Regions from separate parts of the Homo sapiens genome. Here region 1 is linked to region 2. The links come from fine-mapping of genetic effects on gene expression. A gene starts in region 2. The other region holds a variant in brackets. All regions are shown on one strand. Distances are from middle to middle. Region 1 overlaps ACTN4 (actinin alpha 4). Region 2 holds the start of ACTN4 (actinin alpha 4).

The links.
Region 1: its variant is fine-mapped to the expression of ACTN4 in whole blood (TOPMed, PIP 0.98).

Annotation. Positions count from the first base shown.
Region 1 is chr19:38,690,696-38,698,695 of GRCh38, forward strand. All of the region lies in intron 1 of ACTN4 (actinin alpha 4), which reads left to right. Among named protein-coding and RNA genes, the nearest start is that of ACTN4, 47 kb to the left of the region's middle. RefSeq lists enhancers at 3,024-3,615, 3,585-3,644. The variant C/A (reference allele first, on the strand shown) is at 4,777.
Region 2 is chr19:38,637,521-38,651,585 of GRCh38, forward strand. ACTN4 (actinin alpha 4) reads left to right here and starts at 10,129. Exons shown (of 21, transcript NM_004924.6): 1 at 10,129-10,387. The coding sequence starts at 10,226. RefSeq lists enhancers at 1-264, 2,145-3,083, 11,809-12,103, 12,732-12,811 and silencers at 9,969-10,158, 10,389-10,468, 11,652-11,850, 11,809-12,103.

The sequences.
Region 1 (8,000 bases), 50 kb after region 2:
CCCAAAGTGCTGGGATTACAGGCGTGAGCCACCTTGCCTAGCCTTGTTCTGGAATTAGTGGTGATTGTTGCACGATCTTGTGAATATACTAAAACTCCCTGAATTTTATGTAAAAGGGTGAATTTTTTGGTATGTTATGTGAATTACATTTCAATTTTTAAAAATTGATTCTCCAAATTATGTACATATTTAAAGAGTACATGAAAGAGAGGGAGAGAAAGAAAAGCTGGATGCGAGATGCCGCAACCTGATTCCACTCACTCCTAGATTTGTTGAGTACCTGCTATGTGAAAGGTACCAGTCCAGGCAGTGGGTTCCCACAGCAAACAGAACCCTCCTCTGGGGAGCTTATGCTGCACTTGGGAGGGAGACTGGTTATGAACAAAGAACATAGTTTTTGATGATGAAAAGTGCAGTGAGTAAAACAATGCAGTGTGAGGCCGGGTGTGTTGGCTCACGCCTGTAATTCCAGCACTTTGGGAGGCCGAGGTGGGCGGATCACCTGAGGTTGGGAGTTCGAGACTAGCCTGACCAACATGGAGAAACTCCGTCTCTACTAAAAATAAAAAATTAGCCAGGCCTGTAATCCCAGCTACTCGGGAGGCTGAGGCCAGAGAATAGCTTGAACTCAGGAGGCAGAAGTTGCGTTGAGCTGAGATCATGCCATTGCACTCCAGCCTGGGCAACAAAAGTGAAACTCCGTCTCAAAAAAAAAAAAACAAAAAAAACAAAAAAAAAAACCCAACAACGCAGAGTGGAGTGATAGCCTAGGGGAGATGACAGAGTCCAGGAAGGCCTCCTGGGTTGCTGACATTTGAGGCAAGTCCTGAGTGATGAGACAAAACCAGCTCTATAAAGAGCTAGACGAAAGTCTTAGACCAGTATTTCTCATGAGGAGGAGACAGCACTCCAAAATCCATCCTTTGGCCTGGCGCGGTGGCTCACGCCTGTAATCCCAGCACTTTGGGAGGCTGAGGCGGGTGGATTACCTGAGATCAGGAGTTCGAGACCAGCCTGGCCAACATGGCAGAAACCCGTCTCTACTGAAAATATAAAAATTAGCCGGGTGTGATGGTGGGTGCCTGTAATGCCAGCTACTCGGGAGGCTGAGGCAGGAGAATCACTTGAACCCGGGAGGTGGAGGCTGCAGTGAGCCGAGATCATGCCACCGCACTCCAACCTGGCGACACAGCGAGACTCTGTCTCAAAACAAACAAACAAACAAAATCCGTCCTTTGCAGCAGCAACACGCACGCTTTCTGGCACCTCAAAGGGGATTGTCCAAGACTGGAACACTGGCTGCAGGGAGGGGGCCGGGTGCAAAGAGCTGGTTTCTGGGTGGACACGCAGGACCTTTGGAATGCTCGCTACCCCACTCAGCAGTATTTATACCTCTTCTCCAACTGCGAAGTCAGAGCTTTTTCATGCAGGCTGAGAAAACTCCGAATAAGGCAACTTCAGGCCAGGACATAAGACGCATTCCATATTTCACTGTAATTGCTTTCAAATTAGGTTATGTCGTCATGTAACAGGCACACACAGTGCACTTGCTTTGCCCCTGGCTGGGGTTGGGTCCTGGACAGGCTGCCCCGTGTGTCGCTGAACTGCCGCAGTGCTAGCCCTGATTGCCTGGGCAGTAGGGCTGTCTGCGTCCCACGTTGCTGCACCCATCTAATTTGTGGCTGTGTTATTGTGACCTGCTCGTTTTCTGTTCTTTCAACCTGCTTCCTGGCTTTTATCTCCTTCAGAATCTGGTGGCAGTGGATCTTCAAAAAGTGCTCAGGTGTGCAGTCTCACAGGCCAGAGGCTCCACGGGCCCCCTTGCCAGGGCGAGCATCTCTGCCTGTGCCGCTGGTAACCCAGATTCCAGAAGGCTTAGCCGTCTGGCCCTGAAAGCGCCTTTATAGTTGGTGATGAAGCCCATGGGCTGGGGAGCCGTTTCTGCTTTCAGGAACTGAAAAGATGCCCCAGTGGGGCTAGGCCTTGCCTGAGGTCTGGCAATAGCCTGCCAGATGGGTGATAAGAAGGCCTACCCAGGTGATAAGCCTACCCAGGAATAAATAGCTGTACCTCCCCTGTGTCCAAGCCCTGGACACCCTTCCCTAGGACCCATGGAAGCAGGAACCATGGGCAGCGTCAGAGGCCACAGCAGGCAAGGTGGAAGTTCAGGAGGTGGGACGGCGCCCTCCCCCTCAAAGCAACTGATGCCCCAGCGGAGCGACAAACCCTACACGGTATTTCAGAGCCAAGGTTTGAAAACTCCCAGGGTGCTAGGGAGCTCCGTCTGGCCTCCGGGTACCTGGGGTTGGGGCTGGCTGTGGCCAGTTGCAGTCAACCCTGAGCCTGGGCAAAATGCATGCAGGCTGGTCCTCCTGGGTGATATCCTGCTAGGCGGGTGGGCAGTGTACACGGCAGAAGAGGGTTGCGGCATGAGGCAGCAAACGTTTTTTTCTAAAATCTTGTCAAGCGTGGGGTCCGTGGAATCCACATGTGAGCATCAGCCTGGTGGGTGGGGAGAGTGAAGCCTGCGATCCAGTCTGGATCATGTGCTACACAGTGCAGAGCCGGCATGCTCACCCCTCCTGAGGGATCGCTCGAGCCTATTTCTAGGCCCAAAGCGACTTTGCAAGAGACTCCCTTTATTCTGGGCTTAGTGGAATTCCAGCTTCCAACAGCCATTTCCCTCCACCCCCTTCAGTTCTGAGAACATGTTTTGTAACAGGAAGGCAGGAAGAAAAGAGAAGGCGAGTTTGTTCAGCTGGGTCAGCCGCATCCCACCAAGGCCCTTTCTTCCCTCCAGCTCACCATCGCTCTGCCCACTGGAACCACTCGGTTGCCCTGTGTCTGCCGAATGTTTGTTTCTTAATCAGCGCCCCAGAGTAGAGAGGGCTTTGCCTCTTCGGGTTGAGGGAGGGAATCATTGATGAATGGCTCATTAAAGCCCACTGCTGCCACATTCCTGGGTGCTTAGGTCACCTCCTGAACAATATCCATCATTCATTCACCTACCGCCCCACATCCTGGCGGCTGGGAGGGGTCCCTGTGACGCAGGAAGGACTTTATGACCAGAGATGCTAGGTCTCCGTCTCCCTCCTGCAGCCCACAGTGACAAAGCAGAAACTGCTCTTGGGGCCCCCTGAAGCCCGCCTTAGCTGGGTCACCATGGGCCTTGGCACACGGAGGGGTGACAGTGGATCCCAACTCAACTGACAAGCTTGCCTTTCTCTGTTCTTCCACCCCCCTTCCCCGCACTCACACCCTGTGCTATTTTAGCAACCAGAGAAGCCTCTTTAATAGGCTGCCCGTGTGCAGGGGCAAGCTCTGAAGCCTCCTCTCTGTGGTTTGGTTCACATGTGTTCTCAAAGACAGATGAGTCCACATCCTTCCTTCCTCCCTAGATAGGTCAAGGGCTGGGTGCAGGCTGCCTTCACAGGAGGGCCAGGGACAGGCTGGGAGGAGCGGGGCCACCTTTTGCGAAGCGGGTGATCTGCTGGGGCGTTGCTCTGCCTGCCTGCCTTGTTCTCTGAGTTTACCTCTAGCTTGGGGACCAAGGGTGGGCTGGGGCCTTCTTTTTTTTTTTTTGAAACCGAGTCTTACTCTGTCTCCCAGGCTGGAGTGCAGTGGCGCGATCTTGGCTCACTGCAACCTCTACCTCCCAGGTTCAAGCGATTCTCCTGTCTCAGCTTCCCGAGTAGCTGGGTTTATAGGAGCCCGCCACCACGCCCAGGTAATTTTTGTATTTTTAGTAGAGACGAGGTTTCACCATGTTGGCCAGGCTGGTCTTGAACTCCTGACCTCAAGTGATCCGCCCGCCTCGGCCTCCCAAAGTGCTGGGATTACAGGTGCGAGCCACTGCGCCCGGCCCTGGCTGGGGGCTTCTTGACCTGACTCTGCTGTCTCTCCCTCACTGGCCAGCACCTCCCATTCTACTCAGACATCGTGGAATGAATGCCCACCCCGTGTTTGTATGTATCATCTGTGTCTGTGTGACATTAAGCAAGTCACTGAACCTCTCCCTGCCTCAGTTTCCTCATCAAATGGAGATATATCGCATGTGATCATGGGGTTGGAGGTTTTAAAGAGTTGCTAATGTGTAAATAGTAAGAACTAGCAATTAGCCGTTATAGCATAATTACCTTTAATATGTCATGCCCCCCGCACCCCCGTGCTGAATGTAATTTTGCGGGGGGGCGGGTTGAGACAGGGTCTGGCTCTGTCACCGAGGCTGGAGTGCACTAACACAATCTCAGCTTACTGCAACCTCTGCCTCTCAGGCACAAGCTGTCTTCCCACCTCAGCCTCTCGAGTAGCTGGGACTACAGGCGCTCAGTACCACGCCTGGCTAATTTTTGTAGTTTTTGTAGAGATGGGGTTTTGCCATGTTGCCTAGGCTGATCTCAAACTCCTGTGCTAAAGCAATCCTCCCGCCTCGGCCTCCTAAAGTGCTGGGATTACATGGTGTGTGCCACCATGCCTGGCTGGCCAGAATGTAAATGATAACTGTTTTGCTTCCTCCTGTGTCCAGTACATAATAGGGCTCCAAGTCAGTATTTGTGAGGCAGGTGCATGCCTCTTAGTTGCGGTCCTGAGGGCATGGCCACTGCCACGTTCTGGACAGTCAGAGTCGCTGCTGCCCCTGGAAGATGACCGCGATCATGAAGCCCAGGAGAGCTCGATGCTTTTTGCCTTTCCCTCCTCCCACAGAGGGCTGGCAGCTCTGGTTCCTCCCAAATGAAATAGAAACCTTGAGTTTGCATTTCTTCTTTGGCGTGCCGG[C/A]AGGGCACCTCTGCCTTCCTCTTCCTGCCAGGGGGAGGAAGTTTCTCTCAGGGGCTCTTCACCCTGCTTTATTCCTGGCCATCACACATTGACCCTTGTCCCCTTCGGCTCTTTCCCTGCATGGCAGGGACAGCATGACCGTTTAATGGCTTTGTGAGGCCAGCATGCCAGCCTCACTTCTTTACTCCCTTCCTTCTCGGAGTGGGCTCTGTCCCTTCTGCAGGAGGGCTTTGGCACATGCTCTTCCCAGTATCTGGAAGGTCTCCCTCATTTTTATCTTATTAACTCCTCATCCTTCAGCTCAGAGTTTGAGAATGACTTCTTCAAGGACACCTTTCTGTGTCTGCCTCACCAGTCGCTTGGTGCCCCCCCACCCCGCCACCATGCTGACCGCACTCTTCAGCTCCCATCCCAGGGGAGGTGACACAAACTCGGCCCCAGGAGCCCAGCACCTGGCTTTAAACCCAGCTCTGTAACTTTCTAGGTGTGTGACTGATGGGAGCAAGCCACTTCACCTCTCAGGCCCTCCGTTTCCTCATCTGCAAAATGGAGGCAGTACTAGCACCTCCCTCCAGAGATGATTACGAGGGTGACAGAATTAGTAAGTGACCAAGTGCCTCGAGCAGTGCCCGCCCCTAGTAGACTCTATGGAAGTGTCTGCTGCAGTTATTGCTGTTATTATTACCACTTTTCCTAAGGGCGTTATTTCTGGAGTGGACTGATCGCTTGATTAATGAGATCAGACCTGGAGCCTCATGAGAGTGTCTGCTTTTGCTCACTGTTATGGATTCAGCACAGGGCCTGGCCCTCTGCTGACCCCCAGCATATGCTTGTCCAGAGAATGAATATGTACGGACCCATGGTGGCCTGGGGCATCATGAGGTCGGCTGCCCACATTCTGAGAATTTTGCATGGTGGAGGGCGGCGTGGTGGGCGCATAGGGCCCCCATCTATAGAAACCACCTCTCCACACCATCCACCCCACGCAGCGTAGTCTAAACCGGGTAGGGAGAGGAAGGATGGAAGCAGAGTGTTATTTTTGTAACCAAGTAGAAGAAGCGATGAATTTTTAATGTCCCATTCGAACTCCAGCTCCTACTCACCAGTCTCTCCGCATGGAGAAGTGGCCGTCATGGTCGACCTGTTCCCAAGGGTGGCCTTGTGAGTGCAGGCTCTCCTCACCAGAGCTGAGGGCTTTGTGAACCTCTGATGTCAATAGATGCCCCTCATCTTCCAGGAGGACAAAACAGGGCAAAGCAAGACATGGGGTGAGAACAGGAGTGCATCAGTGGGGTTCCCCAAGCCTGTGTCAGGTCCGGATCTGGGTGGGAGTTCCCTTCTGCGTCATCCAGGCCAGGCGAGTGGGCATCCTCCCTGAGCACCTGTGCTTGGGGCTTTGCCTGTGTCAGTCAGGAAGACAGAGTACACGGAAGAGTTACCATTGCTTTCAGAGCAAACCTTCCTTTGACATGCATTTAACACAGCACGGAGTGATTGACATGTGTCCTTGTGTTTAATCCCTATCTTAACCTCTCGGTTACTGTCCTGTTTATCAGTGAGGAAACTGAGGCTTATTGCTTGCCTGAGGCCTCAGTGGCAGAAGCAAGATGTGAATCCGCACCTGTGTGATGCCCAAGCCAGAGCTCTTGTTTACTACCCAGAGAAGATGAGCACAGGTGGGATGTACGTATGGAGGGCGGGTAGGGCAGCAGCCCCTCTGAGGACAGGTGGCCAGAACCCAAGCGGCGAGGTTTGTTCACAGCCTCCACAGGGTGGGGTGGGGCCATCCGCAGAGGGTCTCCTGCCATCCCATTTTCCCTGCATACCAGTGGGTGGTCTGAGAGCCTTTGCAGAGAAGAGACTGGATCTCAGCACGTGCTTATGTGCGTGTGTACATGCACACACATGCGTGTGATTCATCTGGCTCTTACTTTATGCCAAGGAGCCTGTCACATGCTTTAAATGTATTTTCCCTAGTTTAATTCTTAGAGCACACTGCAGGAGGTAGATTCTGATAAATCCATCTTACAGGGAAGGAAACAGACTTAAGTAGGTAAAGTCACTTGGTTGAAAACATGGAATGAGTAAGCCAAGGGGCAGGTATTCAAACCCAAACCCAGGTCTGTGCCCCTGCAGAGCCTGCAGGAGCAGCCCACACAGGCCAAGGCTGTGAGGGGTGCTGTTTGCACGCGTGCGTGGCCCTCCCTGCAGCCCAGGTGCCTAGGTCTGGGCCTGGCAACACCAGAGCACGGGGCCTTGCCCTCGGGGAACAGCCCTCTTTTGTCCTCAGGCTGTGGGATGTGTCTTGGCTACTTTGCTGCCCAGCAGTGCCTGCTCTCAGGCACATGTGAGAGTAGAGGCCTAGCATCCGTGGCCACTTCCTTCCCAGCCCATTTGCTGCTGCCCTTTGCTCTGCAGGGCTGCTGGGCTCCTGGGCTCCACGCCTGCTTGCTGCCTGCCATCAAGGCTGGCAGTGCTCTGGGGCTGTAAAGGTGCAGGCGCCGTACTTCCCAACCCCTGGAGCTCGCACATGGTAGGAGAGAAAGCTCATGTGCATGCAACATCCAATAAGACTAAAAGTGACTGGGGGTTGCTACGGGAGAGGTGCTGAGGGTGGGCCGGGGACAGAGCAGGCACACTGTGGAGGGGGTGGGCAGGACTCCTGAGACCAGGGCAGGGAGGGAGGAGATGCTGGGAGGCACAGGGCCATCCAGAGAGCTGCCACTTCCTGAGCATTGCCATGCACGCTGCAGGCATGGCCATCTTGAGTCCTCACACTGCCCGTGGCCTAGGTGGGGTCTTCATCCCCACGTTGCAGAGGAGGAAATGGAAGTTAGGAAGGTTAGGTGACGTGCCCACATGAGTGGTGTAAGCATGGTTCCCGCCCTGGGCTCTCTGAATTCAGTATTGTATGGGGGAGGCTGGGAAGGTGAGTTAGTACTCTCCGCAGTGAGAACCTGCCTTGGCTCCCCTCCCCTCAAGGAGTTCATAGCCGTGGGAGGGAGGGAGACAAGAACTGTTGGAGACAAGAACTGTTAGAGACCAGAGAGCAAGGGCGTGATGTGGTCTGCAGGGAGGAGGCTGTCTGAGGCAGAACCGGGTCAGGGAGGCCATGGTGCGGGTACCCTCCAGGCACGGCATTTGGCCTGACTTTTGAGGGGTGCCCAGGGTTGGCTACATGGCGGGGCGGAGGTATCTTTAGTGGGGGAACAGCGTTGTGCCAC
Region 2 (14,065 bases):
AGCCAGGATGGTCTTGATCTCCTGACCTTGTAATCTGCCTGCCTCGGCCTCCCAAAGTACTGGGATTACAGGCGTGAGCCACCGCGCCCAGCCGGGATTGTGCCTCTCTAATTCTCAGTTTCTTCATCTGCAGAAGGGGAAGAATAATGCACCCTTCTGAAACCTGTGAGGGTTTCTCCGGCCCTTGCCAGTAAAGGCCTGAGATTGGGGCCTGTCCTGTCCTGTCCTTGCTCTTAGAAAATGTGAGCCACAGGCCGGGTGCAGTGGTTCACGCCTGTAATCCCAACACTTTAGGAGGCCAAAGCAGGAGGATTGCTTGGCCAGAGTTTGAGACCAGCCTGGGCGACAGAGTGGGACTCCGTCTCAATATATATATATATATATATATATATATTTTTTTTTTTTCTTTTTCTTTTTCTTTTTTTTTTTTTTAGAGACAGAGTCTCACTCTGTCGCCCAGGCTGGAGTGCAGTGGCGCGATCTCAGCTCACTGCAACCTTTGCCTCCCAGGTTGAAGCAATTCTTCTGCCTCAGCCTCCCAAGTAACTGGGACTACAGGCACACACCTCCACGCCCGGCTAATTTTTTTGTATTTTAGTAGAGATGGGGTTTCATCGTGTTGCCCAGGCTGGTCTCGAACTCTTGGGCTCAGGCAGTCTCCCTGCTTCGACCTCCCAAAGTGCTAGGAATACACACGTGAGCCACCGCGCCTGACCAAAAAGTTTATTTTAAATAGCTAGGCATGGTGGCGCGTGTCTGTAGTCCCAGCTATTTAGGAGGCTGAGGTCGGCAAATCACCTGAGCCCAGGAGGTCAAGGCTGCAGTGAGCTGTGATCACACCACTGCACTCCAGCTTGGGTGACAGACCCTGTCTCAAAAAAGAAAATATAAGCCATTGTTAATTTCAGGCTCAGAAGTGTTTGTCACCAAGGTTGCAAGCTAGTCCTCAGTACTATTCTGTATGGAGAGACTTCATGAGAAAATTAGTATATATATATTTTTTCCTCTCAAGGTGTCATAGGTAGACAGCTCCTTCAGCCACACCATTCTTTCCAAGTCGCATGCCGCTCCCCTGGTTAGTGTTACCTGACAGGAGACCTGACTCACCTTACATGTTCATTCCCTTCTTACCTGAGGAATTTGGGGCACTCCCAGTGGCCCTTAGGCAGTGCTTTTCCCCTGTGAGCATATTGCCTGGAGGGCTAGGGGGTTGGGGGAATGCAGGAATTAAAAAGACCCAGTAGAGGCTGGTTTATGCCTGTAATCCCAGCACTTTGGGAGGCTAAGGGAGGAGGATGACTGGAATCCCTCTACGCAAAAGTAAAAATTAGCTCAGGTTGGGCATGGCGGTCCATGCATGTAATTCCAACAGTGGGAGGCTGCAGCAGGAGGATTGCTGAAAGCCAGGAGTTCGAGACCAGGTCAACAAAGCGAGACCCTGTTCCTATAAAAGTTTTAAAATTAACTGGGCCTGGCCAGGCACAGTGGCTCACGCCTGTAATCCCAACACTGGGAAGCCAAGGCAGATGGATTGCTTGACCTCAGGAGTTCGAGGCGAGTCTGGGCAACATGGTGAAACCCTGTCTCTACAAAAAACTACAAAAGAAAATAGCCAGGCATGGTGGTACACACATGTAATCCCAGCTACTCTGGAGGCTAAGGTGGGAGGATCACTTGAGCCTGGGAGGCAGAGGTTGCAGTGAGCCAAGATGGCGTCACTGCACTCCAGCCTGGGTAACAGAGTGAGACCCTGTCTCAAAAATAAGTAAGTTGGCCAGGCGCGGTGGCTCACGCCTGTAATCCCAGCACTTTGGGAGGCCGAAGTGGGCAGATCACGAGGTCAGGAGATCGAGACCATCCTAGCTAACACGGTGAAACCCCGTCTCTACTAAAACTACAAAAAAATTAGGCAGGCGCCTGTAGTCCCAGCTACTCTGGAGGCTGAGGCAGGAGAATGGCATGAACCCGGGAGGCGGAGCTTGCAGTGAGCTGAGATCGCACCACTGCACTCCAGCCTGGGCGACAGAGCTAGACTCCGTCTCAAAAAAATAAATTAAAAAAAAAAAGTAAGTAAGTAAAAATTAGCCAGGCACAGTGGTATGTGCCTGTAGTCCTGGCTACCCAGGAGTTTGAGGCTGCAATGAGCTATGATTGCACCACTGCACACCAGCCCAGGTGACAGCAAGACCCTGTCTCCAAAAAAGGAAAAGAAATGCCCTAATAGATGTTCATTACTTAGAGTAGACTGGCAGCTGCCCCTTGGTGATTTATTGATGGATGCTGGTGTGCATAAGCGTTGCCTTGGAGAGGGCAGCTGTGGTACCCAAGCTGCCAGCCGGCCTGACCTCCCTGTGTGCACTCACAGCCAGCATTCCTCAGAGGGCCCTGCCTGTGGGAGCAGACACCCCTTGCCCTGGGGCCCAGACCTCAGCAGGGCCCCAGTAGCCAGGGAGTGCCTAAATCCTGGGGACTGAACAAAAGTGTGCCTCTGCAGCTCACTGGGATAAAAAGGACTGGGAGGCCTGGCACAGTGGCTCATGCCTGTAATCCCAGCACTTTGGGAGGCCGAGGTAGGCAGATCACCTGAGGTCAGGAGTTTGAGAACAGCCTGACCAACATGGTGAAACCCCGTCTCTACTAAAAATACAAAATTAGCCGGGCGTGGTGGCGGGCGCCTGTATTCCCAGCTACTTGGGAGGGTGAGGCAGGAGAATCGCTTGAACCCGGGAGGCAGAAGTTGCAGTGACCCGAGATCGCGCCATTGCACTCCAGCCTGGGCAACAAGAGCGAAACTGCCTCAAAAAAATAATAATAAAAAGGACTGGGATGCCTCTACCACCCATGAACTTGGGCACATTAGCAAAAGGCACCCCTTCTGGGTGGGGACAACTCCCAGTTACCCACTTGGCAGGTGCCCTTATGCAGGATACAACCTGCACAATTGGCCATGGCTGCTCTGCAAGGGAAGAGGAAATGACCTTTTTCCCCTCCTCTGGGAGCCACATCTCATCCTGCCTCACTGGGCTGCTTTCACTATCAGAGGGTCATTCATACTCCGAACAGCTAGGAGGTGGCTCTGGAGAAAAACTGCCTGAGTTCACTCCCCAGCCCAGCCGCCTCAGGGTATGTGAGTTGTCTTCTCTGTACCTGTTTTACAGCTGGGGAAAGTAGTAATTGTACCCACGTCAGTAGTTAATGCCTGCAAAGAGTTTAGAACAGCTTGGTGGGTGCAGTGGCTCACGCCTGTAATCTCAGCACTTTGGAGGCCAAGGCGCGTGGATCATCTGAGGCCAGGAGTTCGAGACCAGCCTGGCCAACGTGGTGAAACCCCACCTCTACTAAAAATACAAAAATTAGCTGGGCTTGGTGGCGGGTGCCTGTAATCCCAGCTACTCAGGAGGCTGAGGCAGGAGAATAGCTTGAACCAGGGAGGTGGAGGTTGCAGTGAGCTGAGATCACGCCATTGCACTTCAGCCTGGACGACAGAGTGAGACCTTGTCTCAAAAAAATAAGCTGGGCGTGGTGTCTCACTCCTATAATCCCAGCACTTTGGGAGGCTGAAGTGGGCGGATCATGAGGTCAGGAGTTCAAGACCAGCCTGTCCAATATAGTGAAACCCCATCTCTACTAAAAAACACAAAAATTAGCTGTGTGTGGTGGCGCATGCCTGTAGTCTCAGCTATTCGGGAGGCTGAGACAAGAGAATCGCTTGAACCCGGGAGGCAGAGGTTGCAGTGAGCCAAGATCATGCCATTGCACTCCAGCCTGGGCAACAGAGTGAGACTCCGTCTCAAAAACTAATAATAAATAAATAAATAATAAATTAAAAAATAGCCGGGGCGCAGTGGCTCATGCCCGTAATCCCAGCACTTTGGGAGGCCGAGGCGGATGGATCAACTGAGGTCAGGAGTTCAAGATCAGCCTAACCAACATGGAGAAACCCCGTCTCTACTAAAAATACAAAATTAACCAGGCGTGGTGGCGCACGCCTGTAATCCCAGCTACTCGGGAGGCTGAGGCAGGAGAATCACTTGAGCCTGGGAGGTGGAGGTTGGGGTGAGCCGAGATCGCGCCATTGCACTCCAGCCTGGGCAACAAGAGCGAAACTCTGTCTTAAAAAAAAAAAAAATAGCCAGGCCTGGTGGCGCGTGCCTGTAATCCCAGCTACTCAGGACACTTGAGGTGGGAGAATTGCTTGAACCCGGGAGGTGGAGGTTGCAGTGAGCCAAGATTGTGCCACTGCACTCCAGCCTGGGTGACAGAGCGAGACTCCATCTCAAAATAAATAAATAAATAAATAAAAATAAAAGAAACTCAAATTGGTTCTGTCTCCAAATTCCATCCTGGTGGGTGCTTGTCATGCTCACTTGGGGTTCAGGGCTGCTGCTCCAGCTGCTTCCTGAGACATCTCTAGACATTGCAGTATTTGTTCATGTCCCCGCCCTGTGAGGACACACCCTCTCTAGTTGCCTTCCCTGAAGTAGTGTTAACAATGGGATACAGCATTTAATAAATTCTGACTGAGGTCTCACGGGTTCAATGGTAAACCTAAAAACGCCTGTAGGGCCCACTGGCCATACCCCTTCTCTCAGAGCCCCTCCTGGTCCCTTGGACATCAATAGACACATCAGCTATTATTACTACACTGCCCATAGATGGCTGCCAGGAAGTAGCCTCAAGGCTGACAATTAAAGGGAGGCTTTAATTTAAACTTCAATGGCTGGGGCTGTCGCCTCCATCTGGGAGCACTTGGTCTGGACGGTTTCTCAGAGTCCACCAGGAGCTGCAGCGAGGGGCAGATGGCCCATCCCCTGAGGAGTTTTTCCCCCAGGCCAGACCATGCATAAGAGTCCTGAGCTAGTTCTTCAAGTCAGGCTGGAGGAGACCGCCCTGCCCTGCCCCACTCCAGCCCAGCTCTGGAAACAGCCAACACGCCTGGGGGTCTTTGGCCAGGTCCTGGCATCTCCTAGGACATCGGGCTGCTGCCTGGGCCTCGTCCCCTTCCTCTGCTGTCACTGGATCCATCCCTTCGCGTTCCTTTGGCAGAGGCAGAGAAGCAGAGAAGGATCCTTGCAACTCCCATAGCTGGAGAAACCATAAACCATGGTGGTTGGTTTTTTTTTTTTTTTTTTTTTTTTTTGAGACAGAGTCTCCCTCTGTTGCCCAGGCTGGAGTGCAGTGGTGCGATCTCAGCTCACCGCAACTTCTGCCCCCTGGGTTCAAGTGATTCTCCTGCCTCAGCCTCCTGAGTAGCTGGGACTACAGGCGCGTGACACCACACCCAGCTAATTTTTTGTATTTTTAGTAGAAACGGGGTTTTACCATGTTAGCCAGGATGGTCTCGATCTCCTGACCTTGTGATCCGCCTGCCTCGGCCTCCGGAAGTGCTGAGATTACAGGCGTGAGCCACCGCACCTGGCAATATTTTATTTTATTTATATTTTTGAGACAGGTTCTCACTTTGTCACCCAGGCTGAAGTGCAGTGGTGCGATCTCAGCTCACTGCAACCTCGACCTCCTGGGCTCAAGTGATCCTCCTGCCTCAGCCCTCCAGGTAGCTGGGACCACTGGCATGCAACACCACACTTGGCTAATCTTTTGTATTTTTTGTAGAGACAGGGTTTCACCATGTTTGCCAGGCTGGCCTTGAACATCCCATGCCCGATGGGATGATATTTTAAATCAGGTGATCCGGGAAAGTCTCACTGAGGATGTGGTATTTCCACAGAGACCTATAGGAAATGGGGCTGTGAGCCCTAGGGACTCAGTGTCTGGGGAAAGTGTTCCTGGGAGTCGTGACTCCACCTCACAAGTACAAAGGCCTCATCAGAGGCTGAGTTTGGCACCTGGTGTGCTTGAGGGACAGCAAGGTGGGGGGTACTCGAAGGCTTTTTTTTTTTTTGAGACAGTCTTGCTCTGTCACCCAGGCTGGAGTGCAGTGCCGTGATCTCAGCTCATTGTAACCTCCACCTCCCAGGTTCAAGCAATTCTCCTGCCTCAGCCACCCGAGTAGTTGGGATTATAGGCGTGCACCTCCACACCCGGCTAATTTTTGTATTTTTAGTAAAGACGGGATTTCATTATGTCGTCCAGGCTGTTCTCAAACTCCTGGTGTCAAGTGATCTGCCCGCCTCAGCCTCCCAAAGTGCTGGGATTACAGGTGTGAGCCACCATGCTAGCTGACTCTAAACTGTTTCATAAACTAGGTTGAGGCAGGGCTTGGGTGGCTCACACATAATCCCAGCCTGTAATCCCAGCATTCCCTGAGGTAGGAGGATCACTTGAGGCCAGGAGTTCCAGGCCAGCCTAAGCAACCTAGCGAGACCACCCCCACACACTCCCCTCACCCCCACCACTTGTCTCTACAAAAAATTTAGCAATTGCCGGGCACAGTGGCTCACGCCTGTAATCCCAGCACTTTAGGAGGCCGAGGTGGGCGGATCACAAAGTCAGGAGATCAAGACCATCCTGGCTAATACGGTGAAACCCCGTCTCTACTAAATATACAAAAAATTAGCTGGGCATGGTGGCAGGTGCCTGTAGTCCCAGCTACTTGGGAGGCTGAGGCATGAGAATGGCGTGAACCAGGGAGGCGGAGCTTGCAGTGAGCCAAGACCGTGCCACTGCACTCCAGCCTGGGCGACAGAGTGAGACTCCGTCTCAAAAAAAAATAGAAATTAGCCAGGCGTGGTGGGGTGCACCTGCAGTCCCAGCTACTTGGGAGGCTAAAGCAGGAGGATCATTTGGGCCCAGGAATTTGAGGCTGCAGTGAACTGGAACGGTGTCACTGTACTTCAGCCTGGTGACATAGCGAGTTGCTGTGTCAAACACCATCACCACCACCAGCACCAAGAACAATATCAACAAAACTTGGCTGAGCTGGATGTGGTGGTACGTGTTCACAGTCGCAGCTACTCAGAAGGCTGAGGTAGGAGAATCAAGAGTCTGAGCTCAACTTGGGCAAAATATTGAGAACCCTGTCTCCAAAAACAAAAAACTAAAACACTGGGCTGGCCGGGTAGAGTGGCTCATGCCCGTAATCCCTGCACTTTGGGAGGCTGAGGCAGGCAGATCACCTGAGCTCAGGAGTTCAAGACCAGCCTGGCCAACATGGCAAAACCCCTCTTTACTAAAAATATAAAAATTAGCCGGGCATGGTGGCATATGCCTGTAATCCCAGCTACTCTGGAGGCTGAGACAGGAGAATCGCTTGAACTCGGGATGCGGAGGTTGCAGTGAGCCGAGATCATGCCACTACACTCTGGTCTGGGTGACAGGGCGAGACTCCACCTCCAATAAAAAAAAAAAAAGGAAAAAAACACTGGGCTGGGCTGGGCTGGGCTGGGCAAGGCAGGGCAGGGCAGACTCCTCTGCAGCCTTTCTTCCTTTCCTTGACTTTGACTGTTACCCTGAGCGTGGAGCCACAGGAAGGTTTGAACAGAGGAGGGAGGAATGTGATCTGACTCAGTCATTCATTCACAGGCTCCCTCCAGCTTCTCCTGGGAAAGAGAAGGGGGTGGGAGGGGGAGCTGGGAGACAGTGGGGAACTGCTGCAATGGCCCAAGGGAAGGCGAGGCGAGGGTAGACAGAACCTGGGTGGCGCAGTGGGGCAGGGGGAAGTGGGTGGGTTCTGTGTATTCTTTCAAGATGGAATGACAGAATTTCCTGAAGAACTGGATGGGGTTGTGAAGACAAAGAGGCATTAAGGATGACCGCAAGGTCTGTAGCCTCAGCAACTGCAAGGCTGGAGGTGCACGAATTGAAGAGGGATGACTGTGGGATGGGATGACCAAGCTTGGGGGGAAGATCAGGAACTCTATTTTGGATATTTATTATTATTATTATTTGAGATGGAGTTTCGCTCTTGTTGCCCAAGCTGGAGTACAATGGTGCAATCTTGGCTCACCACAACCTCCGTCTCCCAGGTTCAAGCTATTCTCCTACCTCAGCCTCCTGAGTAGCTGGGATTACAGGCATGTGCCACTATGCCTGGCTAATTTTGTATTTTTAGTAGAGACGGAGTCGTTGGCCCGGCTGGTCTTGAACTCCTGACCTGGGGTGATCCGCCCACTTCGGCCCCCCAAAGTGCTGGGATTACAGGCGTGAGCCACCACACCTGGCCGGATATTTATTTATTTATTTTTATTTTTATTTTAGACGGAGTCTTGCTCTGTCGCCCAGGCTGGAGTACAGTGGCGCGATCTCGGCTTACTGCAGCCTCTGCCTCCCGAGTTCCAGTGATTCCCCTACCTCAGCCCCCTGGGTAGCTGGGATTACAGGTGCATGCCACCAAGCCCGGCTAATTTTTGTATTTTTAGTAGAGACGGGGTTTCACCATGTTGGCCAGGCTGGCCTCTAACTCCTGACCTCGTGATCTGCCTGCCTCGGCCTCCCAAAGTGCTGGGATTACAGGCATGAGCCACTGCGCCCGGCCATTTATTTTTAATGTAAACATTTTTTTGTAGAGATGAGATCTTGTTATGTTACCCAGTCTGGCCTCAAACTCTTGGGCTCAAGCACTCTTCCAGCCTTGACTCCCCAGAGTGCTGGGATTGCAAGAGTAAGCCACCAGTGCCTGGCTGAATATTTAAATTTAAGATGCTTCCTGATGCAGTGGCTCGCACCTTTGTTTAAATGTCTGCCTTCTCCATGAAGCCTACCTGAGTAGTTTATTTGCATTCCAGCCCATGCTTGATTTTTCTCCAAATACTCAACACCTTGGAATATACAATACTACCTATTTTTTACTTTTATGTATATTTTTGAGACAGGATTTCGCTTCTGGAGTGCATTGGTGTGATCACAGCTCACTGCAGACTGGAACTCCTGGGCTCAAGTGATGTCCCTTCCTCAGCCTCCTGAGTAGCTGGGACTACAGGTGCACACAGCCATGCCCAGTGAATTTTTACATTTCTTGTAGAGACAGGTTCTTGTTATGTTGCCTAGGCTGGCCTTGAACTCTTGGGCTCAAGCCATCCTCCCGCCTCAGCTTCCCAAAGTGCTGGGATTACAGGTGTGAGCCCCTGTGCCTGTCTACATATTTTTTAAAATTTTGAGTGTTGAGGCCAGGCGCAGTGGCTCATGCCTGTAAGCCCAGCACTTTGGGAGGCCGAGGTGGGCGGATCACCTGAGGTCGGGAGTTTGAGACCAGCCTGACCAACATGGAGAAACCCCGTCTCTACTAAAAATACAAAATTAGCCAGGAGTGGTGGCACATGCCTGTGATCCCAGCTACTCGGGAGGCTGAGGCAGGAGAATAGCTTGAACCTGGGAGGCGGAGGTTGCAGTGAGCCCAGATCACGCCATTGCACTCCAGCCTGGGCAACAAGAGCGAAACTCCGTCTCAAAAAAAAAAATTTGTGTGTTGGTTGGGCGCGGTGGCTCACGCCTGTAATTCCAGCACTTTGGGAGGCTGAGGCGGGAGGATCGCTTGAGCTCAAGAGTTCAAGACCAGCCTGGCCAACATGGTGAAACCCCGTCTCTACTAAAAAAATACAAAAATTAGCCGGGTGTGGTGGAGCATGCCTGTGTTCCCAGCTACTCGGGAGGCTGAGGCAGGAGAATTGCTTGAATCCGGGAGGCGGAGGTTGCAGTGAGCCGAGATCGCGCCACTGCACTCCAGCCTGGGAGACAGAGCGAGACTCCGTCTCAAAAAATAATAAAAATAAAAGTAGATTTGTGTGTATGTGGCTTCCTTTACTAGAAGGTAGTTTCATGAAAGTTGGGATTTTTTTCTGTTTTTAGTGCCTGCGTAAAACATAGTCTGGCACAGAATAGGTGTTCAATAAATATTTGTTGAATTTGTGTCGCTGAATGGGAACCCGGTGCAGTGCATTCCAAGCCTGAGCTGGTTCAGGTCCGATGGCGGGGCCTGCCCTTATGAATCATTCATGATCTGGCCCCGCCCATACGCGAACGACGCGCGCGTTCACGCCGGAGAGGGGGCGCGGCTCGCCCCCGGGCTGAGTCGGGCGGCCAGGAAGCGGGACTCTGCGCAGGCGCCAAGCTCCGGAGCGCGGCCTTGGTGCCTTTTCTGGTTTGGCAGGCGCGCGCGCGCGGGAGGGCGGCAACCTCGGCGCTGTGCGCAGGCGCGGCGGGCAGTGCGCAGGCGCGGGCGGAGGGCGGGCTGAAGCAGCTGAAGCGGCGGTAGCGGCGGCGGCTCGGGCAGAGGGGCGGGAGCTGAGGCGGGAGCGGACAGGCTGGTGGGCGAGCGAGAGGCGGCGGAATGGTGGACTACCACGCGGCGAACCAGTCGTACCAGTACGGCCCCAGCAGCGCGGGCAATGGCGCTGGCGGCGGGGGCAGCATGGGCGACTACATGGCCCAGGAGGACGACTGGGACCGGGACCTGCTGCTGGACCCGGCCTGGGAGAAGCAGCAGCGCAAGGTGCGCGGCCCGCGGGCCGGACGGGCTGGAGGGGCTTTTCTGAGGGGGCCCGGGGAGGGGTGGGAGGTCCTGAAAGGTAACTGGAGCGTCTGTGATGGGAACGGGGGGGTCCCGAGAAGGAATTGGCGGGTCCGGGAAGGGAATTGGAGTCCTGAGGAGGAATCGCCGAGCTAGAGGAAGGAATTGGGAATCTGAAAAGAGAATTGGCGGCTGGGTGGGGAATATGGGAGTCAAATAAAAGGAATCGGGAAGGCTGATGAAGGATTTGGAGGGTCTGGGCGTGCCATTAGGGGAAACCGAGGAGATGACTGGGCAGGCTGAAATGGAACTGGGATCCGAGGCGGGCTTGAAGGGTCGGAGCATGGGTTGGGGGTGCTGGGAGGAGAATCAGGGGAGGCTGAGAAGGGAATTTCTGGGTCTGGGAAGTGTGAGGAGGAGCTTGAGTGTGGAGGGGTTGGTTATTTGGAGAGCAGAAAGATCTGAAGGAGATTGGAATTGGGGGAGCCTCAGGTTGGGGGAGTTATAAAGGGGATGAAGAATCAAGTGTGAGGATGGAGTGGAGATTGTGGGGTCTGAAGACGGGTGGGAAGACTAGGGAGGCTGGGAAGATGAAAACAGGGGCTAAGGGTAGAATTGAGCATGAAAAGACATGGGCTTAGGGTGTGAGGAGGGTAGAGGTGCCAGGACTGGGGGTCTGAGGAGGGTGGGGTGCGGAAGGAAGAAGTTAAGGGGCCCGTGAATCAGACGTTTTTGAAGGGGGTGAGATTTATTTGTGGTGCCCTGTTCCAAAGGGGAGAAGATTAAGAGATAGGAGGAATAATAAGAGGAATTGATGAGGGATGGAGAAGCCGAAGTAGAGGGGATACGGAGAGTGGGGATAATTTGGGGAGGGATTTCTAAAGAATTGATGGGAAGCTGAAAAGCTAAAGCGTTGGAGAGAATGAGGAAGTGTAGAGGGAGAAGGTGAGATCGGTGGGAGGGAGGGTGAGCTGGAATGGTGGATAATGGGAGAGAGGTTCGTTTAGGAAAATGAAAGTCTCATTAGAAAGGGAATGCGTAATGGATAGACTGAGAAAGGAATTTGAGGAGGGGGTGCTGGCTCCTGGAGGTGCAGTCCCGGGACTGGAGAGCGTGTGTGTGTCGTGCAGGCAGAATGAGTTTGGGGAGGAAGCGTTGAGAGTGTCCAGGAAGAATTGTGTCTTTTTTGGAGAGACCGGAGGTAGGTGAAGGGATCCTGAAGCAGAGACTGTGTTCAGGTGGCACTGTTTTTTTGGGGGGCGGGGGGGGCAACTTGGTAGGGCCCCACAGCAGTGAAAAGGTGATCAGAAGTGGAGTGGGATCCCCGAGCGAGGTGTCAGTGTCTGTGGGGGGGGGATAAATCCAGTGTGGTTGAGGGGGGAGCTCTGAGTGTGTGCAGGAAGAGCTAAAGAAAGGAGCGTGGTGAGTGGGTGTGTGTGGGGGGAAGGGGTTGTTCAGAAGTTTTGTGCGTGAAATGGGTGGGAGGTACTTGAAGTTGGAAGCATTTCGTGGGATCTGGAGATCTGGATTTTCTTTCCAGATTTGTTACTGATTCGCTCTGTGGCCTTGGACAAGACCCTTGAACTCTCCGGGCAGTTTTGTTATCTGCAAAATGCAAAGGGATCCGAGGGTTCCCTGCGGTGATTCTGTTAATAAAGAGGGATGTGTGTAGAGTTGGGACTTTGGACAGGGCTCTGAAGGTTTGGGAGAGTGAGTTTGGTGGAGATTTTTCAGGAACAGGCTACAGGGCTTTGAGTGGTGACCTGGCAGAGTGGGGAGTGACTGGAAGCCTCTCGAGGGCGCGAGTTGGTGGCCAGGAGCTTGGCACAGGCAGCCTAGCCCAGGCTGGAGGGGAAAGGGTGGGAAGGGTGGAAGGAGCAGCTGTTCCAAGGCAGCCTGAGGTGGGGCCGGGCATAACCTTGGGTCCATTACCAGCGTTGCTTGAATTTCCTCATCCGTAGTAACTGAGGGGCATGGCAGTGGCTTGGTGGGAGGGGTGTCCTTATCCGTGGCCCCACCTACTGCAGGATGGACAGGTTGCGATAGTTGGCATAAATTCACTTTTTGAGGGGAAGGTGAGATCTGTTCTGGAGTCTCAACAATAATTTATTGCCTGAGGCAGTGCCAGGTTGGAAAAGGTTGCCAAGAGACCTGGAAAGTTGGGAGGGAGCAGGGGCCACAGTGGTGGTTTTGAGAATGTCTAGGCTTTGTCTTCTGCAGCTGAAGGTGCTGGAGAAAATAAACCCCTCCCCCTTTTTTCTCAGGTGATAAGGGTGGGGGGACCTTCCTTTTCTCTCCCTTCCTGTCTTCTGCCACTCCTCAAGTGACTCCTTTTGCGAGCCGGGTTTCACTCCCTCCCGAGAGTTAGGGTGTGGGCTTTGTTCGTGGTTATAGTGTCCCTTGCCTACAGGGTGAGGCTGGGGCACCATTCAGGCCCTGGGTGGAAACCAGGACTCCCCAGAACCTCCAGGCCTTGCTGCCATGTGTCATTCTCTTACCTCCCAGCTCCCTTCCTCTGGGGCCGGGCAGGTTTGAGGGAAAAGGGTGGCTCACAGAGTCCGCTAATACCATCTGCTTTCGTGTCTCAGCCAGAGCCAGATTCTAGTACCTCCTGCTTTACACCTCCTCCAGCAAATATTTACCCTTAGCTGCTCTGTGGGGGAAACTACTGCTTCACCTCTGTGCCCTTTCCTGTTATGGGGTAGGGATTCTTTTTGAAATGGGGGAAGGAGTAATGGAAAGGAATACACCAATCTGTGTGGCTCTCTACCTTCCTACTAAGAAACATCCCTGCACTCCCAGGCTGGCTGGGTTGTTTGTTTGTTTGTTTGTTTGTTTTTGGAGACGGAGTTTTGCTCTTGTTGCCCGGGCGTGATCTTGGCTCACCGCAACCTCCGTCTCCCGGGTTCAAGCGATTCTCCTGCCTCAGCCTCCCGAGTAGCTGGGAATACGGGCATGCGCCACCACGCCTGGCTTTTTGTATTTTTAGTAGAGACGGGGTTTCTCCATGTTGGTCGGGCTGGTCTCAAACTCCCGACCCCAGGAGATCCGCCCGCCTCGGTCTCCCAAAGTGCTGGGATTACAGGAGTGAGCCACTGCACCCAGACTGGCTGGGTTTTTTCTACATTGCAGTGTTGCTTTAGTGAATGACAGATTGCCCTTCTTGCCTCTCCAAGGCTGAGCCACTGGGCACGGGAAGAATGACAGTCCTGGGGGTTCTGTACATGCATACTCCAAAAAAATATGCATCCAGAACAGCTGTAGGCCCTCAAAGTGGGTAGAATTGAATTCTTCTAGGAATTAAGCAAGAGTTGGCCCAAATCAGAGGGGACGTGTGTCTCACTTCTGCTTGGAAGCCCTTTGCTCTGACTTCTAGGGACCCCTGTAACCCGTAAGTAGGTTATGCAACGGTTTTTACATGAGAGGGCCATGAGTGTTCTCCTGGCGGGATGGAGAAGCATTGTTCTGGTCTTTGAGCAAATTCTTGAGCAATTACAGTTCTGGGCCACAGTTCCCTCTCCCAATTTCTAAAAGTGGCCTGGGTAACCTCATCACCCTCTGTTGTCCTGGAAGGGTGAGATCTCTTGAAGGTTATGCCAAATCTCATTACAGCAAGAAGAAATGACTCACTTGCTAAGTTTTCGTGTTCATTGAAACATC